Regions from separate parts of the Homo sapiens genome. Here regions 2, 3 and 4 are each linked to region 1. The links come from fine-mapping of genetic effects on plasma protein levels. A gene starts in region 1. Each other region holds a variant in brackets. All regions are shown on one strand. Distances are between the middles of the regions.

What was found. PIP is the chance, under the fine-mapping model, that this variant and not a neighbour inherited with it causes the effect. Protein levels are from antibody-based Olink assays in UK Biobank. Linkage for the fine-mapping came from a reference panel and not from the study's own genotypes, which makes the PIPs less certain.
Region 2: its variant is fine-mapped to the plasma level of the LPA protein (UK Biobank, PIP above 0.99).
Region 3: its variant is fine-mapped to the plasma level of the LPA protein (UK Biobank, PIP above 0.99).
Region 4: its variant is fine-mapped to the plasma level of the LPA protein (UK Biobank, PIP above 0.99). The variant lies in the coding sequence of LPA. If it changes the protein, the assay may bind it differently, which can mimic a change of level.

What each region holds. Positions count from the first base shown.
Region 1 is chr6:160,661,437-160,667,504 of GRCh38, reverse strand. It overlaps LPA (lipoprotein(a)), which reads left to right and starts at 3,230. Exons shown (of 39, transcript NM_005577.4): 1 at 3,230-3,339. The coding sequence starts at 3,291.
Region 2 is chr6:160,589,478-160,595,545 of GRCh38, reverse strand. It overlaps LPA (lipoprotein(a)), which reads left to right. Exons shown (of 39, transcript NM_005577.4): 21 at 11-192; 22 at 1,429-1,588; 23 at 4,445-4,602; 24 at 5,834-5,993. Among named protein-coding and RNA genes, the nearest start is that of LPA, 72 kb to the left of the region's middle. The variant A/G (reference allele first, on the strand shown) is at 3,565.
Region 3 is chr6:160,582,429-160,588,496 of GRCh38, reverse strand. It overlaps LPA (lipoprotein(a)), which reads left to right. Exons shown (of 39, transcript NM_005577.4): 25 at 1,867-2,048; 26 at 3,292-3,451. Among named protein-coding and RNA genes, the nearest start is that of LPA, 79 kb to the left of the region's middle. The variant G/A (reference allele first, on the strand shown) is at 3,452.
Region 4 is chr6:160,598,075-160,604,142 of GRCh38, reverse strand. LPA (lipoprotein(a)) reads left to right here. Exons shown (of 39, transcript NM_005577.4): 19 at 3,045-3,226; 20 at 4,484-4,643. Among named protein-coding and RNA genes, the nearest start is that of LPA, 63 kb to the left of the region's middle. The variant G/A (reference allele first, on the strand shown) is at 3,068.

The DNA.
Region 1 (6,068 bases):
AAATTGTCAAAGAAGTATAAATTAGAAAATGAATCAGGACAATTTCAACCTGTTAGATTAGCTAATATTTAAAAATTGAACACTCATACAAGTGTGGTGAAGTGATTGTTTTCTAGTGACATTTTACACTGTCATAACCTTCTAGAAAATAAATTGGCAGTGTTATTGGGAGACAGAAATATGTCTATATAATTTATGGGAACTTAGGCTCAGAAAATATTAAGGAATAAGAATGAACTTTATGAACAAAGATGTGGAGGGTTGGAAGCAAGAGGGGGGCCAACGCGCACGGGGAGGAAGCATTTGGGCAGTGACTCCGCAGACCCAGGCTCAGGTTGAACTAGACAACCTCCTTACACCTCAGTTTCCTTAACTGTAGAGCAGGAGTGATGGAACTGCCTGTTTCATAGGACTGTTGTGAGGATGAAGTGAGATACACCACATTATAAGCTTGTGCCTGGAAAGGATAATGCTTAGTAAATGATGACTATTCTTTTTTATTGCAATAAAATGTACACAGCGTAAGAGTTACTATTTTAACCATTTTTGCAGGGTACCACCAAGTGGCATTTAGTACATTCACAGTGGTGTGCAACCATCATCATATTTCCAGAATATTTTCCTCATCCCCAAAGGAAACCTCATGCTCATTAATCAGTAGCTCTCCTTTAAAATATTAGTTATGAAGATCATAGCACTATACAAAACTCATTATGTAATGTTGAGTGAAAAAATCAGGGTGTGAAATTTTGTGATATGATGTAATTAGTGAAAGAAGCATACAAAAAGTCTGAAAATATAAAAACAATAGCAATTGCATTTCTCAGACTCTACATTTAAACATTATTCTTTATGGTTTTAAAAGCAAAGAAAAAGGTAAAGAAACAACAACCAACCGCAAAGCACCATGACAAAGCTCAGATTGTTAAATCCAGGTTTTTGGAACATAGACTCTTATATGACGTTTACACTCTCCAGGGTTCAGAGAGTCTGGCAGCATTGGGAGCTGCCTTGTGTTCTACAGCCTCACGGACAGACAGGAGGTCCATCACCACTGCTCTGTTCTTCTGGAGTTTCCTTGTGAACATGTTGTGGACGTAGTTACCATTTCTTTCATCTTTTTAAACACAGGTACCTTTGGGGCTGGCTTTCTCAAGGAAGCCCAGCTCCCTGTGATTGAGAATGAAGTGTGCAATCGCTATGAGTTTCTGAATGGAAGAGTCAAATCCACTGAGCTCTGTGCTGGGCATTTGGCTGGAGGCATTGACAGTTGCAAGGTAAGAAAAGATCAAGAGACCAAAGTTAGTCTTGTGCTCTCCTGTCTCAGTCTCAGTCCCTTAGACTTGAGTCCCAAAGTAGCGAATTCAAGTAGGATTTAATCAATGGAAGACCCCAGTCTAAGTGTTGCTCAGAAACTCCCTAGATCTGTCCCAAATGTATATTCAGATCATCCAAGGGGACTTCTTGGGGCTTGAGTTCCAGATCAGCAGCAAGGGAGCCATAAGTGCCATAACTACCTCAGACCACTCACCCTCCTGGGGTGTCCCGGTGGCCAGGGACTAAAGTGGTGATTTTTCTGGTAGGGAAGGAGGTAGAGGGTACAGGACAGAGACTAACTGCACACAATATCTGAGACTGGAGCTCAGATATTGCTGATGATCAGAGTTGGCGTGTCTCCCCAATTGATTTACAACTGGGGCTTGGATACTGTTTTAAACGGGAGGAGCCTCCTAACCATCTTGACACAACCACTGACGTGACTACACTAGAGATAGACTCTTTCCACTTAATTCTACCACTCTTGCTTTACTTCATGAGAACGAAAATGTAAGATTGCACCATGAATTCATTTGCGGAAAGATTGATACTATGCTTTTATTTTATTTTATTTTATTTTATTTTATTTTATTTTATTTTATTGAGACTCTCACCCCGGTTGAAGTGCACTGACGTGATTTTGGCTCACTGCAACTTCCACCTCCTGGGTTCAAGTGAATACTCCAGCCTCCCTAGTAGCTGGGATTACAGGTGCCCACCACCACGCCTGGCTAATTTTTGTATTTTTAGTAGAGATGGGGTTTCACCACATTGGCCTGGCTGGTCTCAAACTCCTGACCTTGTGATCCACCTGTCTTGGCCTCCCAAAGTGCTGGGATTACAGAGTTGAGCCACCGCACTCGACCCTATGTTTTATTTTTAAAAATATTTATTTATTTATTTAAGCCACAACTACTAGAATAGGAAGGATTGATATTTTATTAATTTTATTTGGTATTTATTATTTTTTTTTCTTTCCTGAGACATTCTTGCTCTGTCACCCAGGCTGGAGTGCAGTGGCACATTCTTGGCTCACTGCAACCTCCATCTCCTGTGTTCAAGCAATTCTAGTGCCTCAGCCTACTTAGTAGCTGGGATGACTGGCATGTGCCTCCACACCCAGCTAATTTTTGTATTTTTTGTAGAGACAGGGTTTTGGCATGTTGCCCAGGCTTGTCTCAAACTCCTGGCCTCAGGTGATCCATCTGCCGTGGCCTCCCAAAATGCTGGGATTATAGGCATGAGCCACCACCCCCTCCTGGAAGGATTGATATCTTATAACATAATTTATAATTACAGAAAACATGTGAGTTCACTAGGAATAAATAAATTTTGAAGATAATAAAAGATTTTCACTTATGTTGTCATTTCGGCACAGTTTGGTATAGGATGTGGAGATGTTAACATTTATACCTAGCTTGCTCGTAAACTAAGACCTGAAAGGGTTGTGTCTATCAGCTGCACCCCTGGGTAGCGACACAACCTCGGGAAGGCCTCAGCCCCCTCCTCGTACAGCACTGCCTGTTGGAAAGCTTGAGGGAGGCTATGGATGTGCAGCACTTGGCAGAGGGTCTGGTCATGGAAGTTACCAGCAAATATGAGCTACTTTTATGATTTTATTTTATCCAAAAGAAAGAGAATGAAAGAAGAGGGGAGGAAACAAGACTAATCAGGAAAGATGAAGGTCTAGGGGTGAGGGAAGGAGTAAGGAGACATAAAGGCAATGTGGAGCAGCTGAGGGGGGAAATGGCTTTCACCACTTCCCAGCATCTATTGACATTGCACTCTCAAATATTTTATAAGACTCTATATTCAAGGTAATGTTTGAACCCTGCTGAGCCAGTGGCATGGGTCTCTGAGAGAATCATTAACTTAATTTGACTATCTGGTTTGTGGGTGCGTTTACTCTCATGTAAGTCAACAATGTCCTGGGATTGGGACACACTTTCTGGGCACTGCTGGCCAGTCCCAAAATGGAACATAAGGAAGTGGTTCTTCTACTTCTTTTATTTCTGAAATCAGGTAAGACATAGTTTTTTTAAATTATAAGAATTATTTTTTCTCCCACAATGTAGTAAAAATACATATGCCATGGCTTTATGTGCAATTCATTTAATTTTTGATTCATGAAATTCCCAGTTCAAAATCTTGTATATGATTGAAAAATTCTTAAAAAAATAAGTTTAATTTCCCCGTGAAGACTGTCACGGTGCTGGAATGAATGGGCAGAAAAAATAATGGTTGATTTTTCTAATCTAAAAGAGTGTGCCTACATGATGGCCAGTCTGGCTGAAAAATAAATAGCCATTGTAGCTAACTATGCAAAGGATGGCTAAGCTCTTCGCTTGGTTCTCAGTTTCATTAATTTATATCATCTCTGTTCAGGTGCCATGCTCCCCTCACTAGCAAGTTGAAACAATGAAATAACTCTTTGAATATGTTTGGTTCCTTGACCTGTTCATGGAGTGGGACTCAGCATTTCTCTCTTTGTTATGGCCTGAGTAAGGCTTTCCATCGGTATACATTTGCTTCTTATCCCTGGAGAAATTATACACATCCATTTGCCAGATGATATACGCATATAATGATTCAACAAATACTCAGGGTATTTGTTGAGTGGGTTAGGTCCCCACATTTTTATACATACATACACACATACACACCGTGTGTGATTGTGAATGTAAGTGTGTGTCCTTTACAAATACTAGCTTATTTAGCTCATGGTATAGGTAGGGTAGCATAGTCATCCCCATTTTATAAACAAAGAAATCTAGACTTAGGAAAATCATGTTATTTGTCTCGTGACCAAATTCCCAAATCAAGGAAATAAAGAAACCTGGATTTAAGCCAGATTTCCAAGAAAAAATCTAGGGCTCTTCTCACTTTTTCATCTTTGTTCCAACATTTGAAAAAATAAATCTAAACACATTCCAATGTAACTGAAGAGCAGGTTAATTGTTTGCCACTTGCAGAATCCAATTAAGAAGAGAGAAGTCTGGTATAAAGAAAGTGATTTGCTTCCAAAGCTAGCTTAGGGGAAGAAATGCAGCAGTCCTGCCGTACTACTTCACTTTAGGAGCAGAAAGTGGCACTTTTAAAAGGCAACAGAGGAGGCGAGCAAGGATTCAGGGGTCCATGCTAGCTTGGGCACCTTATCCACCAGGTAGTTGAGCAGTTGCCTGCTGGTGCCTTTGTGAGCAGGGTGTTGTCCCTTGAGGCAAATCTCTGGAGGGTGAGAGTTTTGTAGTGGGCATGCTTTGGTTTATAAATCACCTGTGAACTCAGGAGTTCCATCTTGAAGCACATACATAGTTAGATGAACTTGCCCTGCAGGGAGAGTCTGATGAAAGGGAGGTAGATGCTTGCAATTTAATCTATAAATTACCAGATAAAATTTTACAAGTTGACTTTAAAGTCAAACACATTTGAATTTAGTGGAAGCCATTCAAGAAAATATCAAAGAAAATACAGAGCAGGAGAAGATTAAGCAAAGAGTTTTTTGGGGAAATTGGTGTCTATGTCTGTGTGTGTAGGGAGTGCAGGGGATATGAATATTCTATTTCAGCCCATGGAAACTAGGATGTAGATCACTGTGAACTTATTCAGCAGGCTACACCCAAAGGCTAGAACAAACTTCTCTGCCACAGGATTAACATATGTTTTAATCGACCTGGGGGGCACATTCTCTGATAAGCTCTTTTGGAAAGCCAGGCTTTCTGTGGACGTGTTATCTTTCCAATGTGTGCTGGAATGCCCGGGGAGAGGAAAAAGTTTCTTTTACAGCCATGCTCAGTGAGAAGCGGAGAAACATCTTCTATTCACAAATTGCTAAGTCTTTTACACATGCAAATATGCATACACATTCACACACCACAGTGAGGAAGAAATTCTCACACCATTAATAAAATACATTTACTTCAGTAGCAATATACATCTACATTTTGCCTATAATATAAAAGTATTTTTCCTATTAAAAGATTTGTTTAATGTTTCTTCACCAACAAATAAACCCTATTAAATCCCCATTGCCATATGAGCCCTGGAGGTGAATCAGAGAAACAAAAGGATTGTGGAAAAATCATCAGGTTAAAAAAAGAAAAATTGATTCTGTTTTGGGATATTTCCTAGCAACATGAGCTGGGGAGGGGATCTCAGCAGTGATGCTCTATGAAGCATAATAAAATGACACAGTTACAGGTAACTTAGTTAAAGGGGGAAATAAATGGAAGTTTCCTCTTTTTGAATATCAATTGTAGCCTGCTCTGCTACATTTCAAAAACACTCTTCAAAATGTTTAACTGAACTCACTGTAGGAAGCACCTTATTAATTTATTGTGTGTTTTGAAGTCACACTGTGAGCTATAGAATTTACCCAAGCACAACTCTTCCTGGAAAAGAGAGTTCAAATGAGAAACAGTGCGGGGTGAAGACATGGATATGGGCCTAAAATATCTATTTCTCAATGATATTTTGATATATCTATCAAGTGCTTTTTAGTGGATTAGGTTCAGAATGCATCAGCCAATGCCTGTTCAATAATCCAGTTTTCCAGCATAGAGCATATTAAATTGAGGAAGGACAAAGTCACAGAGGTGGGGAGCAGGTGGACTGTGGCCAAGGACTTTGCATGAAACAGTGAGCGTGCATCCTCCTCCTTGCCCTGCCCTCATGGTCTGTGTACTCTCAGGAGGTCAGGACAGGCCTTTCTGAGAATGAGAATCTGTTCATCTGCCTTTCTACTGGATACTTGT
Region 2 (6,068 bases), 72 kb after region 1:
AAATTTGCAGTGGCCTGACCAGGAACTACTGCAGGAATCCAGATGCTGAGATTCGCCCTTGGTGTTACACCATGGATCCCAGTGTCAGGTGGGAGTACTGCAACCTGACACAATGCCTGGTGACAGAATCAAGTGTCCTTGCAACTCTCACGGTGGTCCCAGATCCAAGCACAGAGGCTTCTTCTGAAGAAGGTAGGAAGTCTATGGCCAGACAACCACACCCTAGGACGTTGGGATGAAAAGAGTTGCAAAATCTTAGTGATATAGAAGCCTTCCATGCTCACACAATTCCAAGTAGAATGTGGACTCAGGGTCAGCCACTGGGAAGGAACACTCAGCGCCTTCTCTGGGAGAACCAGAGCTGTGATGTTTGGTACCCTGTGAAAGGGTGGTATCTATAGGAAGGGTGCAGACCCTCTAGGGCACTGGACTTACCACTCCCCTGGTTATTCAAAGGATCATTTTAGTGTCTTAGCCAGAAGAATATTCTAACATTTTGCCAAATTTGTGAAGATTTACCAAGCTCATGATAAGCCTTTCATGGTATTTCTTCAAGTAGTCAGTGTTCATTGCATCTTTGGCTTTGCGGTTTCGGAGGAATGCGGTTTTTGAGTCTGTCATCCTTGAGAAACCTAATATGACTTTTCTTAGTTCCATATACTTCTGGGTCCAGGTAGCAGTACATAGCCAACAAATGCTCCATCGTTCTGGCCTATCTCCATCTTAAGCCAGTCCTGCACAACTAGGCTTTGATGGGAGGGATCTCTCAGTGTTCTTGCCCCTCCTTCTCATGGAACATATATCTGTGTTGGTCTCTGAGAAGAAGAGTAGTGGATATCTACTTTGTTGCAATGCAGAATCCTGGGCCAAAGATACCAGCCATCCCTCCAAGGGAATAAAATTTTGGCCAGTAGCCCTCTCTGAGAGACAATTTGTCTTTGCCTACGAGTCCTAGATGCAGGACCGCTTCCTGCCCCATCTTCAAGAAGCTGAAGGCTTTGGCTTTGGAGGATCAGCAGTCTAGGGAAATGTGTGACGGTTTCATGTCTGTCCCCACTGACAGTCAATCACCACCTACAACCTGCACAGCCTGATGCATAGCAGTCTAGTTTCCTGCCTTATTCTCAGGAACACCCAGAAGATGTCTATATTAAAGAGCATGCACATGAGTGCAATTTTGACTGATAGGCACTCTGATCTTTCCTTTGGTGCCTGTGTTTTAAAGGAAATCTTTCTAAGAACTCGTTAAAGTTCTAGAATGCTATGAATCTTTGGGTTTTATTATTGGTATGTCCATCTGCCTGCTAGTACAGAACAGAGCATGGTAGTCTTTCTCAGAGACAATGATCCTGTTTCAGTCACAGATTTCTTCTGATGCTTCTGTGTTCTAGAAATTACTCAGCTTGATTTCTCCTCTTTGAATTTCAGCACCAACGGAGCAAAGCCCCGGGGTCCAGGATTGCTACCATGGTGATGGACAGAGTTATCGAGGCTCATTCTCTACCACTGTCACAGGAAGGACATGTCAGTCTTGGTCCTCTATGACACCACACTGGCATCAGAGGACAACAGAATATTATCCAAATGGGTACAACCTTGAGTTTTCTTCAAAGACAGACAGCAGCCCCCTTACATTTCTCTTGGAAGGGCCATGCTTCCAACTAACTTCTTATGACAAATTTATCTCAGATCTGGAATGTTGGGTAGAATGTCTCAGGCTTCTTTCTTCAGGCACAGTGTCTGAAAGGAGAGAAATGTCAGGCCAGCTCTCTTTTCTCATAGTTGACAGAAGCAGGAGGATATTTGAAGGTGGTGAGTTCTCATGAATAGAAAGCTCAGGACACATGGCCACGTGCTTAGAAATAGCACCATTCCACAATGCCCACTAAAGACCAATGCAATAGTTCAACCAGGGATTTCTGTCATTCTAATCTCCAAGTCCTGAAGTGAAGGTTGTATTAGCCATGTTCATCTTGGGCAACAAATAAAGGATATCTATGTTGACATCCAGATCTTCCAATCACTTTCTCCTCTAACCTGTACCTGGGTTCTGAGAACAAGGTATCTGAAGAGCTATGTGTTGCCAGCACATGAGGGGCAAAAGTAGGAAGGCAGCTGAGAGTCAGGAAGTATAAAGATTCTGAAGAGTTACACATGCAGGAAGATGGACAGAAACCCAGTTCAGACCACGTCAGCGTTTCTGCCATGAAGGACTATCAAATACATAGGAAAAGTGTTTTCATAGGTTGGACAACAGACATGACAGGCCTGAGAAAATTCAGAAAGGGAATCAAAGGAGATCAACCTTATCATGTCCCTGGCATCCTTCCTTGAGACCCTTGAAGGGCAAGCAGATGGAGCCCAGCTGACCACAGCAGTCTTGCTTAACTGAGGAGAGAGACTGGAGTTTGTGATGCCTCAGGCATCTGACGTATTCTAGGCTGGCTAAGAATGAGAGGGGATTTGTGGAGGAAAGGAGCTCCAAGAATACACACCGAAGTCTTCTCAAGGCTTTGGCTAAATACAAAGCTGCGTATGCACAAGGAGAGTTTTCACAAAGAAAGAACAATAAAGAAAAGCTACTGGGGAAAGAACAACTGCAAGGGAACAGTGAGCTCAATGGAGATGCTAGAGCTCACATAGCACTGGGGGATATTTGAGTTCTGACCACTCAGAGGAGAGACACCTCACTGAACATCTTGGGCATTCAGTAGAGGTCAAAGAAAGCCATAATTTGGGAGTAGGATCTTCGGATTCCTAGAAATAAGGTGACTCCAGAAACACTCCAGCAACCCTTCTTCCAAGCCAGTCTAAAAGGATCCAAATGATTTCCAAGTAAATTAACTGCCTTCCAGAAAAAAGTAAACTCAACCCTCCTTAGAGGTAAGGAACGAATACAAGTTTCTCAGTTATATGACATCCCCAGAGTGCAACTTGCATTTAAAAATTTACTAGACACAAAAGAAGTTTTCACTGTGATCCATAACTGGGAGAAAAATCACTCAACACAAATAGGCCCAGAAATAATAGAAATTATGGCATTGGCAAGAACATTTAAAATGCACCTCTGAGAACTGTGTTTCAGGAAAATGTCAGCAAAAGCTGACCATGAGAGAAATGAATGCATAATATCAGAAAAGAAAAGAATTGAAGAGCCAAATGGAAATTTAAAAACTGAGAAAAGTTATATCTGTAATGAGGAATTCACTGGATGGCCTTATAACCAGTTTAGATATTATGGTAGGAAAAGGTGAACGAGAAAATGATTCAATTAAAGCTAGACAAACCACAAGACAGACAGACAGACACAAATACACATACACACAATGACTGAACCAATTAATCAACAGAGCCTCAAGGACATCTAGGAAAACATCCACACATTTAATATATGTGTTAGGCAAGTCACAGAAAGAGAGGAAAAAGATAATGTGACAGAAGTTATACTTGAAGCCATGACGGCTGACAAATTTCCAAACATACAGAAAATGAGAAATTCATAGTCATGAAGCTCAATGACTCAGGTATAGATTTTTAAAGAGCAAAACTCTGATTTACTGGGGT[A/G]CATCATAGTTAAATTGTCTGATTTCAAAGCTAAGAAGAAAAAAAGGGGGTTCCTATGAACAAACATTTTGACAGTTGATCTAAGACCACAGCTTAAATATCTAGGCAAGGAAAAGCAAATAAGACACAAGGAAAGGGGATGGATGGAAATAGTCCAAACCAATGACATTCAGTGAACAAGAAAATAGACCAACAAAGGAGTAAATCCATGAAACAGAAAGTTGGTTCTTTGAAAAGATTCATGTGATTGACCACAGTCTGGCTGAACAGATGACAGACCAAGGAGGGAGTACAACCATCACCATTTGAAGTAACAGGGGAGAGGAGCCATTGCTATACCATACTCCAGGTCTGAAAGCTGACAAGAAGATATCAAGAAAAACTGTATGTGAATAAATTCATGAATGTAGATCATGTGGATCAATTCCTTAGGTAAACAACAAATCAGCAAACCAGATACTGAATAGATTGGGTACTCCTATAGAAAGACATACAGATAGCCAGACAGAGAAACATTTGTACGTGCATAAAACAATCTACAAGACTCACTTCAAAATCTCTCAGTTAATCCAAAGTAACATATTTGGCAGAAGGTGGAAGGAGGGTATTCTGATCCTTTCTTGTACACATTGATGTTTTCTCTCGGTTTTCTTATGGAGTATAGACGAGTTTGGATGTGTTACAATAAGAATGATAATCTGTCTTTGAAATGTTCACAGTTGTTTAGAAGTTGAGGACGATTTGTGATTGTTACAGGACCTTTAGTGAGAATATTTCAAAGTCACTTTTTACCACTTTGTTACAACAAAATGTAGAGGATGTCTGGTGCCCTTGTATCTTCTCCCATCTCTGGTGAACTGTATTGTTTTGTAATTTGCAGTGGCCTGACCAGGAACTACTGCAGGAATCCAGATGCTGAGATTAGTCCTTGGTGTTATACCATGGATCCCAATGTCAGATGGGAGTACTGCAACCTGACACAATGTCCAGTGACAGAATCAAGTGTCCTTGCGACGTCCACGGCTGTTTCTGAACAAGGTAAGAAGTCTCTGGCCAGACAACCACACCCTTGGACGTTGGGATAAAAAGAGTTGCAAAATCTTAGTGATACAGAAGCCTTCCATGCTGCACGGGAATCTGAATGTGGACTCAGGGTCAGCCAATGGGAAGGAAGCCTCAGCGCCTTCTCTGGGGGAACCAGGGCTGAGATTTTTGGCACCCCGTGACAGGGTGGTGTCTTTAGGAAGCGTGCAGACCTTCTAGGGCACTGGATTTACCACTCCCCTGGTTATTCAATAGATTATTTCAGTGTCCTAGTGAAAATGGATATTCTAACATCCTGCCAAATTTGTGATGATTTACCAAGCTCATCATGAGCCTTTCCTGGTATTTCTTCAAGTAGACAGTACTCATTGCAAACTTCAGCTTTACAGTTTCAGAGGAATGTGGTTTTTGAGTCTGTCATCCTTGAGAAACCTGATATGACTTTACTTAGTTCCATATCCTCCTGGGTCTAGGTAACAGTACATAGCCAGCAAATGCTCTATCTCCCTGTCTACCTTAATCTTAGGCAGGTGCTGCACACCTAGGCTTTGATGGAAGGGATTTCTTAGTGTTCTTGCCCCTCCTTCTCATGGAACACGTATCTGTGTTGCTGTTTGTGAAGAAGAGTAGTGGATGTCTACTTTGTTGCAATGCAGGATCCTGGGCCCAAGATTTCCCGCCGTCCCTCCAAGGGAATAAAATTTTGGCCAGTACCCCTCTCTGAGAGACAATGTGTCTTTGCCTGGAAGTCCTAGATGGAGGACCACTTCCTGCCCCATCTTCCAGAAACTTAAGGCTTTGGCTTTGGAGGATCAGTGCTCTGGAGAAATGTGTGACGGTTTCATGTCTGCCCCCACTGACAACCACCACCTACAGCCTGCACCGCCTGATGCATGGCACTCTGGTCTCCTGCCTTGTTCTCAGGAACACCCAAAAGAGATCTTTGCCAAAGAACAGGCACATGAGTGCAATTTTGACTGATAGGCACTCTGATCTGTCCTTTGGTGCCCAGGTTTTAAAGAAAATCTTTCTAAAAACTCATTGAAGTTCCAGAATGCTATGAATCTTTGAGCTTTGTTATTGGCATGTCCATCTGCCTACTAATGTAGAACAGAGCATGGTCGTCATTTTCAGAGATGATGTCCTGTTTCTATCATGGATTTTTTTTCTCATGCTTCTGTGTTCTGGAAATTACTCAGTTTGTTTTCTCCTCTTTGAATTTCAGCACCAACGGAGCAAAGCCCCACAGTCCAGGACTGCTACCATGGTGATGGACAGAGTTATCGAGGCTCATTCTCCACCACTGTTACAGGAAGGACATGTCAGTCTTGGTCCTCTATGACACCACACTGGCATCAGAGAACCACAGAATACTACCCAAATGGGTATGTCTTTGAGTTTTCTCCCAAGAGAAACAGCCACCCACTTAAATTTCTCCTGGAAGAGCCATGCTTCCAGCT
Region 3 (6,068 bases), 79 kb after region 1:
TGCCAGAGCTCACATAGCACTGGGGGATATTTGAATTCTGACCACTCAGAGGAGAAACACCTCACTACATTTTGGGCATTCAGTAGAGACCAAAGAAAGCTGTATTTTGGGATTGGGATCATCTTATTCCTAGAATCAAGGTGACTCCAGAAAAACTCCAACAACCCTTCTTCCAAGCCAGTCTAAAAGGATCCAAATGATCTCCAAGTAAATTAACTGCATTCCACAAGAAAAAAAAAACTCAACCCCCCTTAGAGGCAAGGGACAAATACAAGTTGCTCAGTTATATGGCATTCCTATTGCGTTACTTCTATTTAAAAATTTAATAGAGACACAAGAAGCTTTCACTGTGATACATAACTGGGAGAAAAAATCACTCAACACAAACAGGCCCAGAAATTATAGAATTGATGACATTGGTGAGAACATTTAAAATGCACCTCTGAGAACTGTGTTTCAGGAAAATGTCAGCAAAAGCTGACCATGAGAGAAACAAAAGCAGAATAGCAAGAGAAAAGAAAAGAACCGGAGAGCCAAATGAAAATTAAAGAACTGAGAAAAGGTACATCTCTAATGAAGAACTCACTGGATGGCCTTATCATCACTTTAGACATTACGGTAGGAAAGGTGACCTAGAAAATAATTCAATAGGAGCTACACAAATCACAGGACAGACAGACAGACCAACAGACAGAAACACACACACACACACACACACACACACACACACACACACACACACACAAAGACTGAACCTATTAATCAACAGAGCCTCAAGGGCATCTAGGAAAAATCCACACATTTAATATATGTGTTAGGCAAGTCACAGAAGGAGAAGAAAAAGATATCATGACAGACATTATACTTGAAGCGATGATGGCTCGCAACACGCCAAATATACAGAAAACAAGAAACTCATAGTCAAGAAGCTAAATGACTCAGGTATAGAATTTTAAAGAGCAAAACTCTATGATTTACTGGGATATATCATAGTTAAGTTGCCTCAATTCAAAGCTAAAAAGAAAAAAAGGGGGTTCCTATGAACAACAGCTTTGACAGCTGTTGATCTAAGACCACAGCTTAAATATCTAGGCAAGGAAAAGCAAATAAGGCACAAGGAAAGAGGATGGAAGGAAATAGTCCAAACCAATGACATTCAGTGGAAAAGAAAATAGACCAACAAAGGAGTAAATCCATGAAACAGAAAGTTAGGTTCTTTGAAAAGTCTATATGATTGGCCAAAGTCTGGCTAAACAGATGACAGACCAAGGAGGGAGCATATCCATCACCATCATGAGTAACAGGAGAGAGATGCCATTGCTATAGCATCCTCCAGGTGTGAAAGCTGAGAAGTAGATATTGAGATCAACTGTATGTAAATAAATTCATGAATGTAGATCATGTGGATGGATTGCTTAGGTAAATAACAAATCAGCAAATCAAACACTGAATAGATCATGCAGTTTTATAGAGACTTACAGACAGCCTGACAGATAAACATTTGTATGTACGTGAAACAATCTCCAAGACACACTTCAAAATCCCTCTCGGTTAATCCAAAGGAATGTATTTGGCAGAAGGTAGAAGGAGGGTATTCTGATCCTTTCTGGTACACATTGATGTTTTCTCTCAGTTTTCTTATAAAGCATAGATTACTTTGAATGTGTTACAATAAGAATCATAAGCTGTCTTTGAAATGTTGACAGTTGTTTAGAAGTTGAGGACCATTTGTGAGTGTTATGGGACTTTAGTGAGAATATTTCAAATTTGCTTGTTTACACTTTGTTACAAGAAAACATAGAGGGTGCCAGGTGGTGCTGTATCTTCTCCAATCTCTGGTGACCTGTATTGTTTTGGAATTTGCAGTGGCCTGACCAGGAACTACTGCAGGAATCCAGATGCTGAGATTCGCCCTTGGTGTTATACCATGGATCCCAGTGTCAGATGGGAGTACTGCAACCTGACGCAATGTCCAGTGATGGAATCAACTCTCCTCACAACTCCCACGGTGGTCCCAGTTCCAAGCACAGAGCTTCCTTCTGAAGAAGGTAAGAAGCCTGCAGTCAGACAACCATACCCTCGGACATTGGGATAAAAAGATTTGCAAAATCTTTGTGATGCAGAAAACTTCCATGCTGCACAGGAAGTCGAAGGTGAAGTCATGGACAGCCAATGGGAAGGAAGCTTCAGTGCCTTCTCTGGGGGGACCAGAGCTGGGATGTTGAGTGCCTTGTGAGGGATGGTGTCTTTAAAAGGGGCACAGACCCTCTAGGACACTGGATTTATCACTTCCCTGTTATCAAACGAATCATATTAGTGTCCTAGCCAAGATGGATATTCTAACATCCTGCCAAACTTGTGAAGATATACCAAGCTCCTAAGCCTGTCCAGCCCTTTCTTCAAGTAGGCAGTGTTTATTGCAGTCTTCAGCTTTACCATTTTGAAGGAATGCCATTTTTGAGGCTGTTGTTCTTGAGAAACCTAACATGTCTTCATTAGATCCGTATTGTCCTGAGACTTTGAAGCAGTACATAGCCACCAAATTGTTTATCTCCCCAGCCTACCTTCATCTTGGGCATGCCTTCCACACCTAGGATTTGAGGGAAGGGATTTCTCAGTGTTCTCATCCCTGCTTCTCATGGAACATTTATCTCCGTTGTTTTTTGAGAAGAAGAGTAGTGGATGTCAGCTTTCTTGTAATGAGGGATCCTGGGCCCAAGATTCCCTGTCTCCCCTCCTAGGCTATAAAATTTTGGCCTGTACTCCTTCTCCCTGAGAGGCAATGTGTCTTTACCTACAAGTCCTAGATGCAAGATCCTTTTCTGCCCCACACCCCAGAATCTGAAGGCTTTTGCTTTGGAGGAGCAGTGGTCTAGTGTGCAAGGGTTTCATGTATACCCCCCACTAACAGCCAATCACCACCTATAGCCTGAACAGCTTGATGCATGGCACCCTGGTCTCCTGCCTTGTTCTCATGAACACCCAGAAGAGGTGTAAGCAAAAGACCATTCACATGAGTGTAATTTTGAAGTATAGGCACTCTGATCTGTTTTTTGTTTGTTTCTTTGTTTGTTTGTTTTCCAGGGTTGAATTAAAATATTTATGACTACTTATTAAATTTCTAGAATCCTATAAGTCTATTTGTATTTTTATTCTACATTTCAATTTGCATGCTAATATAGAAGAGTGTAAATTGTTAATCCTCAGATTATTCCACTTTGTGTGTCATAATTTTTTTCACATTTCCCTTTTCTAGGCAATACTGAGCTTGATTTTCTCTTTTAATTTCAGCACCAACTGAAAACAGCACTGGGGTCCAGGACTGCTACCGAGGTGATGGACAGAGTTATCGAGGCACACTCTCCACCACTATCACAGGAAGAACATGTCAGTCTTGGTCGTCTATGACACCACATTGGCATCGGAGGATCCCATTATACTATCCAAATGC[G/A]TATGTCTATCATGTTAGCCATAAAAGGAACAATAGTCAACTAAAATTTCTCTTAGCTGGCCCATGCTACAAGCTCACTTCCTAGGTCCAAATTTCTCATAGACTCAGAGTTTGTAGCAAAATGTCTCAGGAAACTTACTTTTGAGCAAAAGGTCTGAATGAAGAGAAGTTTTAGGATTGCTATCTTTCATAACAATTTGATGGAAGCAGCAGGATATATGGAGGTGGTGAAGTCTCATTAATGTAAAGCTAAGGAGATCAAATGACCAAATGCTGAGACAAAGTATCATTCCACAATGCCCACTAAAGGTCCATGCAGTCTTTCAACCATGCAATTCTATCATTCTATCCTCCATTCCCTGAAGTGAAATTTGTGTTTGCCATTTTTGACACGAATCAGAAGTAACAAATTCAGGCTGGGTGCAGTGGCTCAGGCCTGTGATCCCAACACTTTGGGAGGACAAGACGGGCAGATCACCAGAGGTCAGGAGTTCAAGACCAGCCTGGCTAACATGGCAAAACCCCATCTCTACGAAAAATTAAAAAATTAGCCGGTCATGGTGGTGGGTACCTGTAATTCCAACTACTTGGGAGGCTGAGGCAGGAGAAACACTTGAGCCTGGGATTCAGAGTTTGCTGTGAGCCGAGAACATGCCACTGCACTCCAGCCTGGGTGACAGAGCAAGACTCAATCTCAAAAAAAAAAAAAAAGAAGAAGAAGAAGAAAAGAAGAAGAGGAAGAAGAAGAAGAGGAAGAAGAAGAAGAAGAAGAAGAGGAAGAGGAAGAGGAGGAGGAGGAGGAGGAGGAAGAAGAAGAAGAAGAAGAAGAAGAAGAAGAAGAAGAAGAAGAAGAAGAAGAAGAAGAAGAAGAAGAAAATAGAAATGAGTGCATATATTTATATATGAGTACTAGCCTGTATGAACACACTGGGTTCTAAGCACCAGTTTTCTGAAGGGATATGGGTTGTCAGGCAGAGTAAAAGCAGGAATGCAGATGAGAGTCAGGAAGTAAACAGATGTGGTGATTAAAATGGGCAGGTACATGGACAAAAAAATGCATGTCTGACAAAAACTGGCCTCTTGCCATAAGTGAGTATGAATAATATGGAAAAACTGTTTGCACATGTTGAACAGCAGACAGTACAACCTGAGATAGTTTAGAAAGGGAAACAAATAAGATCAACCCCATAATTACCCTTCCTAGACTTAAGGGCAAAGAGTTTTAACCAAAGCATTCCACAGCAGTCTTGCTAAACTGGGGAGAGAGACTGGAGTTTTGTTTACTAATAAAACCGAGATTTTCTAGGTTAGGTAATAATGAGAAAGTATTTGTGGAGAAAAGGAGCTCCAGGAATACACACAGAAGTCTCTTCAAGTCTCTGGCTGAACAGAAAGCTGTGTATGCACAGAAAGAGTTTCCAGAGAGAAAGGAGAACAAAGAACAGCTACTGGGGAAAGAACAACTGCTGGGGAACAGTGAGCTCAATGAAGATGCCAGAGCTCACATAGCACTGGGAGGTATTTGAGCTCTGACCAGCCTGAGGAGAGACACTTCATTGAACATCTTGGGCATTCAGCAAAGACCCCAAAAAACCATACTTCAGGAGTAGAATTAATGCATTCCTAGAATAAAGTCTACTCCAGAAACACCCTAGAAAAGCTTAGAAACCAAGTCTAAAAAGATCCAAATGATCTCCAAGTAAATTAATTGCCTGTCAGAAGAAAACAACCTCTTCAGAGGTAAACAACAAAATTAAATTGCTCAATTATATAGTATGCACAATGTGTGGCATACATTTAAAAATTTGCTAAACATACAAAAAGCATTTAGTGTGACCCATAACCAGGAGAAAAATCAGTCAATACAAATAGACCCAAAAATGATAAAAATAACAGAATTGGCAAGGAGATTTAAAATGTATGTATCATAATTGTGTTCAAGGATTTAAAGAAAGCGTGGACAAGAAATAAATAAATGGATAATATCAACAGAAAGAAAAATTGTAAAAGGACCAAATGGAGAGTCAAGAACTGAAAAAAAAGACATCTCTTTAATGAGAAAATCACTACATGGCCTTATAATCATATTAGATAGTACAGATGATAAAGCTAACTAGAAAATATTAGGGTGGTGCAAACCATAGCACGCTTATACAAAGCCTGAGAAGATAAACAGAGCCTCAAGGACATCTATGAAAATATCAAAATATTTAATATTTGTTTAAAGCAAGTCACAGAGGAAGGGAAAGAGATATTGGAACAGAAAAAATACTTGAAGCAGTGATGGCTGATGACTTTCTAAATATGGAAAAAATGATAAACTCACATAGTCAAGAAGCTCAATGGATCAGATATAGGATTTTAAAAAGTAAAGCTGTATGATTTATTTGGACACATCATAATTAAATTGTCCATAATCAAAGATAGAAAGTAAAATCTTATTTGAAGCCCAAGGGAAAAAACATACCTTTACATAGAGTAACAGTGACACAAATGACTGATGCCTTCTCATCAGAAACAACACAAATCAGAAACAATAGAATAACACCTTTAGAGTGGTAAGAAGAAAAAAAGATCAAATCAGAAACAACAAAATAACACGTTTAGAGTGGTAAGG
Region 4 (6,068 bases), 63 kb after region 1:
GATTTGTGGATGAAAGGAGCTCCAGGGGCACGCATAGTAGTCTCCTCGAATCTTTGGCTAAACATGACGTTGCATGTGCCCAGAAAAAGGTTCCACAAGAAAGTAGAGAAAAGAATATATCCTGAGGAATAGCAACTGCGATTGAACAGTGAGCTCAATAAAGAGGACAGAGCCCTCATAGCATTCTGGGATACTGGAGTTCTGACCAGCTGGAGGAGAGACCTCACTGAACCTCTTGGGAATACAGTAGAGACTCCAGAAAAGTCATACTTTAGGAGTAGAATTAGTAAATTTCTAGAAAAAAAGGCAGCTCTAGACAAACCCTGGCAAAACTGAAAAGCAAGTCTCCAAGCATTAAAATCATTTCCAAGTCAATTAACTGCCTGGGAGAGGAAAACCCTCTTTAGAGGTAAACAACAAAGTCAAGTGGCTCAGCTATGTGGTGTTCACAGTGTGAGTTCTAAATTTAAAACTTGACTACACATAGAGAAGCTTTTAGTATGAACCATGACCAGGTGAAAAATCAGTCAATACAAATAGACCTAGAAATGACAGAAATGATTAGAATGGCAAAAAATTTGACATATCAATATGTCAACTGAGTTTTAGGTTTTAAGAAAACATGAATACGGAATGAAGCAGATACCATATCAAGAGACAGTAACAGTATAGAAGAGCCAAATTAAATTAAAGAACTAGTATAAGAAGGTATGTCTTAAATGAAAAAATTACTGGATGTATTCCCAATGGAGTGAGATGTTTCAGAAGTAAAAACTAACTGAAAAACAATTTTATACCACCTACAGAACCAGCTACACATACACAAATGACACACACATATACACACATACTCACACATGCACAGGCTTAGAAACATGCACGCACACACACACACACACACACACACACCTCCACAAATACTAAAAAATGAAATCCACTGATCCTCACAGACAGGCGGGAAAATATAAAAAGATTTCCTGCATGTGGGTAGGAAGTCACAGAAGGAGAGGAAGGAGAGATTGCTACAGGAACAAATACTGGAAGCAAGGATAGCTAAAAACTTTTCAAATAAGAAGAATATTAAAAACCACAGATTCAAGAAGCTGAATGAATCAGACAGGGAATTTCCAAAAAAAAAAAAAAAAAAACTGTATGATTCACTTTTGTACATCACCGTTCAACAGTCAGAAGGCAAAGATATAATAACAAGAAACATCTCATGAGAAACTGGAGGAAAAAGAGCTGTGTCTTGCTAGAAGAACAGTGATACAAATTGCTAATGCATTCTCATCAGAAACACTGGAACCCAGTTAACAGGGGATATCATTAAAATGATAAACTAGAAAAAAAAGAGATCAAATGAGAATGCTACATCCAGCAATAAAATGCCTTGAAGATCATCCATGTTGGATAAATGCATATTGTGCACTGCCCCAAATAAATAAACCAAAAACTAATAATTTGGAATCAGCAGGCTTGTGTAACAAGAGATGTTGCCCAAAGAAAATTAGCTAGAAGAAGAATAGTTCAAGAGGAGAACTTTCTGCAGCCCACGTAATGAAGAACCCAGCAAATGGCAAATGTAGATGTAAATGCAAAATATTTTCTTGATCAAATTTCTATATCTTTTTAAATGAGAGTTGACTACTTGAAGCAAAATGATAGCAATATATTTAACTTTAGCATATGTAGAGGTAAAAATTTGAACATATAGACTAAATCATGTGGGGAATAATTGGAAGTGTACCATTGTAAGTTTCTTACCTTATCCACGATGGTATGTAATATTAATGAAAGGTTGAATTTGTGGGTCCAAAGGGATATTGTAAATCCTAAAGCAATCATAAAATTTTGAATTCTGAGGGATATTATATAATAAGAATTTTCCATGTATCCAAAAGAGGGAAGCCAAGGAAGAAAAAGAAGTCTTTCAAGTACTCAAGCTCTGAGCACATCCAGTTGCTCATTGAACCAGCTTCCTGGAATGGAGGGTCTGGGCTTGAGACTAGGTCACATGTGTAGAGTCTCTAGAGAGACAGTGTTGGATCCCCATGGCCCATAATACATTTCCCGTTTTCCCAGGCAGCCACAGGTCACGAATGGGAGGATTCTGAGAGGTTGGAGCAATGTTCTTAGGAGGCATAAGGAGGAGTGAATGCTCTGAGATTTCCCCAGCCTGAGGTCCTCCATAGCTGCCCGACCTCTTCAGACCTCATAGTCTGCCCAGCTGTCTCCCTTTATGCCATGAGTGCCACTGTTCTTTCAACTCATCCCCCATTCCCTCAGTCCCGGAATTGCTGTGGCCAGCAGAGGATGGACTGAGAGCAGGAGAGGAAGTCCTGACCAGGAACCCATCCTAGAGATACTGCATCCTGCCTGAAAGCTAGGTTTCCAGGGCAGCTTTGAGAAGTCTTGCAGAAAGAAACCCACTTGACCCACCTGATACGGTATCGACAGACAGGAATACTTTTTGTGCAATGGTTTTACATGCTGAACATAGAGCCTTTTGGCTACATTTTGAGTACATTGAATGAGACTGCTGGCCTGGGAAGGATATCATGCTGGATGCCATTTTTTTCTCTGGAGAACTATGTGTTAGTTCCAACTCGCACATTACTATATGAAGTCCTACACAGAGAGATACGGAGAGCTAGACAGATAGAGATACTTTTGTATGTGCATAACCAATTCCACAATACACACGTCAAAATCCATACCAGTTATTCCAGAGAGATGGATTGGGCAGAAGGCAGAAGGAGGATATTCTGATCCCTTTTTGGCCACATGTATGTATAATCTCAGTGTTTCTAGGAAGTGTGTGCTGCATTAGATTTTTTTTCTTTAAAAAAAGTGATAATATATTAAGTATGAGAAATGTGCAGAGAGGATTAGAGATTGAGAGCCATTTGTCATTGTGGCAATTGTATGGTATCTCTTTTGGGAATATTTCAAAGGCACCAGTAATGACCTTGTTGTAGCAAAATATACAGTGTTCCTGCATATGTACCCATTTTTTGTGATGTGTATTCTTTTGGAATTTCCAGTGGCTTGATCAAGAACTACTGCC[G/A]AAATCCAGATCCTGTGGCAGCCCCTTGGTGTTATACAACAGATCCCAGTGTCAGGTGGGAGTACTGCAACCTGACACGATGCTCAGATGCAGAATGGACTGCCTTCGTCCCTCCGAATGTTATTCTGGCTCCAAGCCTAGAGGCTTTTTTTGAACAAGGTAAGAAGTTGTGCCAGACATTTACCTGCTTGGATGCTGGGATGAAAAGCCATGGATACCCCCACTGACGCACAACCCTTCAGTGCTACACTGGTTCTCGTGTGTTGGTTCTGGGTCTGCCATGTGGGAGGAAGCCTTAGCGCACTCTCTGGGGGAGCCAGAGGTGTGATTTTTGGTGCAACCTGTGCGAGCTGTGTCTTTAGGATGGGCGGAAACCATTCTGGGTGCTCGACTTCACCACTCCCCTCATTGTAAAAGGGGCTATCTCATTGTCCTAGACAAAATTCTTATTGTAATATGCTGTCAGATGTGTGTGTCTTTCCAAGCCAGTAAACTTTTCCAGGGATTTCTTCAAGTAGACAGCATTCAGTGCAATCTTCAGCATTGCAGATTCCGAGAAATGTGGCTCTAGATCCTGTTATCCTTGAGAAACCTAACTGGGTTGCATTAATTCCATATCTCCCTGGGTCTGTGGAGTAGTACATGAGCTCCCGAAGCTCTATCTCTCAGGTCTTTTTCAGTCCGAGGCAGGTTGTGCAGTTCTTAGCTTTGAAGGGAGTGATTTTTTCGTGTGCTTTTGCCTCTTTCTGATGGAACTTGTACCTGCGGGGGGTCTGGAGAAAAAGAGTAGTAGACTTTTGCTTTATTGCAATGCATTATGCTGGGCACGAGAGGATTCCCTATCTTATTGTAGGTGATAAGCTTTTGGCCTCCACTCATCCCTGAGAAGTGAAGTGTTGTTGCCTACAGTTTTAGCTGCAGGACTGTTGTCTGCCCCATCACCAGGAGTTTAATGCTTTCTTTTTTGAGCAATCATCTAGGGACACATGCAAGGTTTTTATATGTCCTTGCCTCCTCCCCAAAAAACCATTTTAATGCTTGGAGACTTGCTTTTCAGCTTTGCCAAATGCATCACCCTTTCTTCTATGCTGTTCCATGTCGTCATGAACACTCTGTAGAGATTCCTAGAAATGAGCTTCCATGTTAGTGGAGTTTCCGATGAGAAGCAATCTGATATTTCTTTTCCACTAAGTTTTACATGAAATATTTCTAAGAACTTACTACAGTTCTAGAATGGTAGGCATCTCTTACTTTCGTGTTTGTTTGTGTGTTTTCTCATGTCCATTTGCCTATTAATAAAGAATAGAGAATGGTTGTAAATCTCAGTGACTCTTTTTTGGTTTATGTCATAAATGGCTTCCTGTATTTTTCTGTTCTAGGAAATAATAAGCTTGATGTCTTCTGTTTTAATTTCAGCACTGACTGAGGAAACCCCCGGGGTACAGGACTGCTACTACCATTATGGACAGAGTTACCGAGGCACATACTCCACCACTGTCACAGGAAGAACTTGCCAAGCTTGGTCATCTATGACACCACACCAGCATAGTCGGACCCCAGAAAACTACCCAAATGCGTACGTCTTTGTTCTTTACCATAAGCGAAGGAAGGGCCAATGGAAGTTTCTGTTAGAAGAGTCATGCTTCAAGGTGACTGCTCAGGACTCAACTTGGCTCAGATGCAGAGGAACATTTCCTGTGAGCAAAAGTTCTTAGAGAAGACTTTGTTTTTTTGAGACAGAGTCTTGCTTTGTTGCCCAGGCTGGAGTGCAGTGGCATGATCTCGGCTCACTGCAAGCTCCGCCTCCCGGGTTCACACCATTCTCCTGCTTCAGCCTCTCTAGCAGCTGGGACTACAGGCACCCACCACCACACCCGGCTAATTTTTTGTATTTTTAGTAGAGACAGGGTTTCACTGTTCTAGCCAGGATGGTCTTGGTCTCCTGACCTCGTGATCCGCCTGCCTCAGCCTCCCAAAGTGCTGGGATTACAGGCGTGAGCCACCGTGCCTGGCTGAGAAGACATTTTTTAAGCTGGCTCTCCTTCCTCCTAGTTTTATGGAAGCAGAAGGATATATGGAGTTGAGAAGATCTTATTAATAAAACAGCCGGGATGACAAATGACCAAAGAGTTAGAGTATCCTTCTACAACATCGGCTGAGGGTTAATACAACCTTTTCACCTTGGAATTCTATCATTCTAAGCTCTAGTCCCTGAAGTGAATGTTGTGTTGGCCTTTTGCATCTTGGGTCACAGGGAATTGATACTTGCACATCTATGGAGAGGCAAATCTTTTTCTATCTACTTCTTTTTCAATGGGTACAAACACACTTGGTCCTGAGCACCAGTGGTCTGAAGAGATACGGTCTGCCCAGAGGAGAAGAACAAAGGCAGGAAAGCAGATGAGAGTCAGCAAAGGGGCGATGCTGAAAAGTAAAAGGGGCGGGTAGATGGACAGAAGCCATGATCTGGCCATTCTATGGCCAGTCTTTCGGCCATAAGTGACTACCAAAGACACGGCAAAACGGTTTCCACATGTTGAACAACAGATGCTAGAGGACCAAGAGTATTGCAAGAGGGAGAAAATGAGATCAACCCATCAATGCCTTGGCTTTCTTCAAGGAGACCCTTCCTGCACTGAAGAGCAAGGAGATGGAGCCCAAGCTGACTGTAGCCATGTTGCTGAACAGAGGAGAGTGATTGGACTTTGGGATTACTCAGGTAGTTAGGATTTTCTAGCCATGCTAAGAGTAAGAATGGACTTGTGGAGGATAGGAGCTCCAGGCATAGAAGTCTCCTCAAGTGTTAGTCTAAACATAAAGCAGCACTTGCATAGAAGATTTTCCACAAGAAAATATGGCAAAAAAACACCATATATTGAGGAACAACAACTACAAGGGAACAGTGAGCTTAATAAAGGTGACAGAGCTCACATAGTGCTCTGGAATATTGGAGTTTTGACCAGCTAGAGAGAAGAGACCTCATTGAAAATCTTGGGCATTC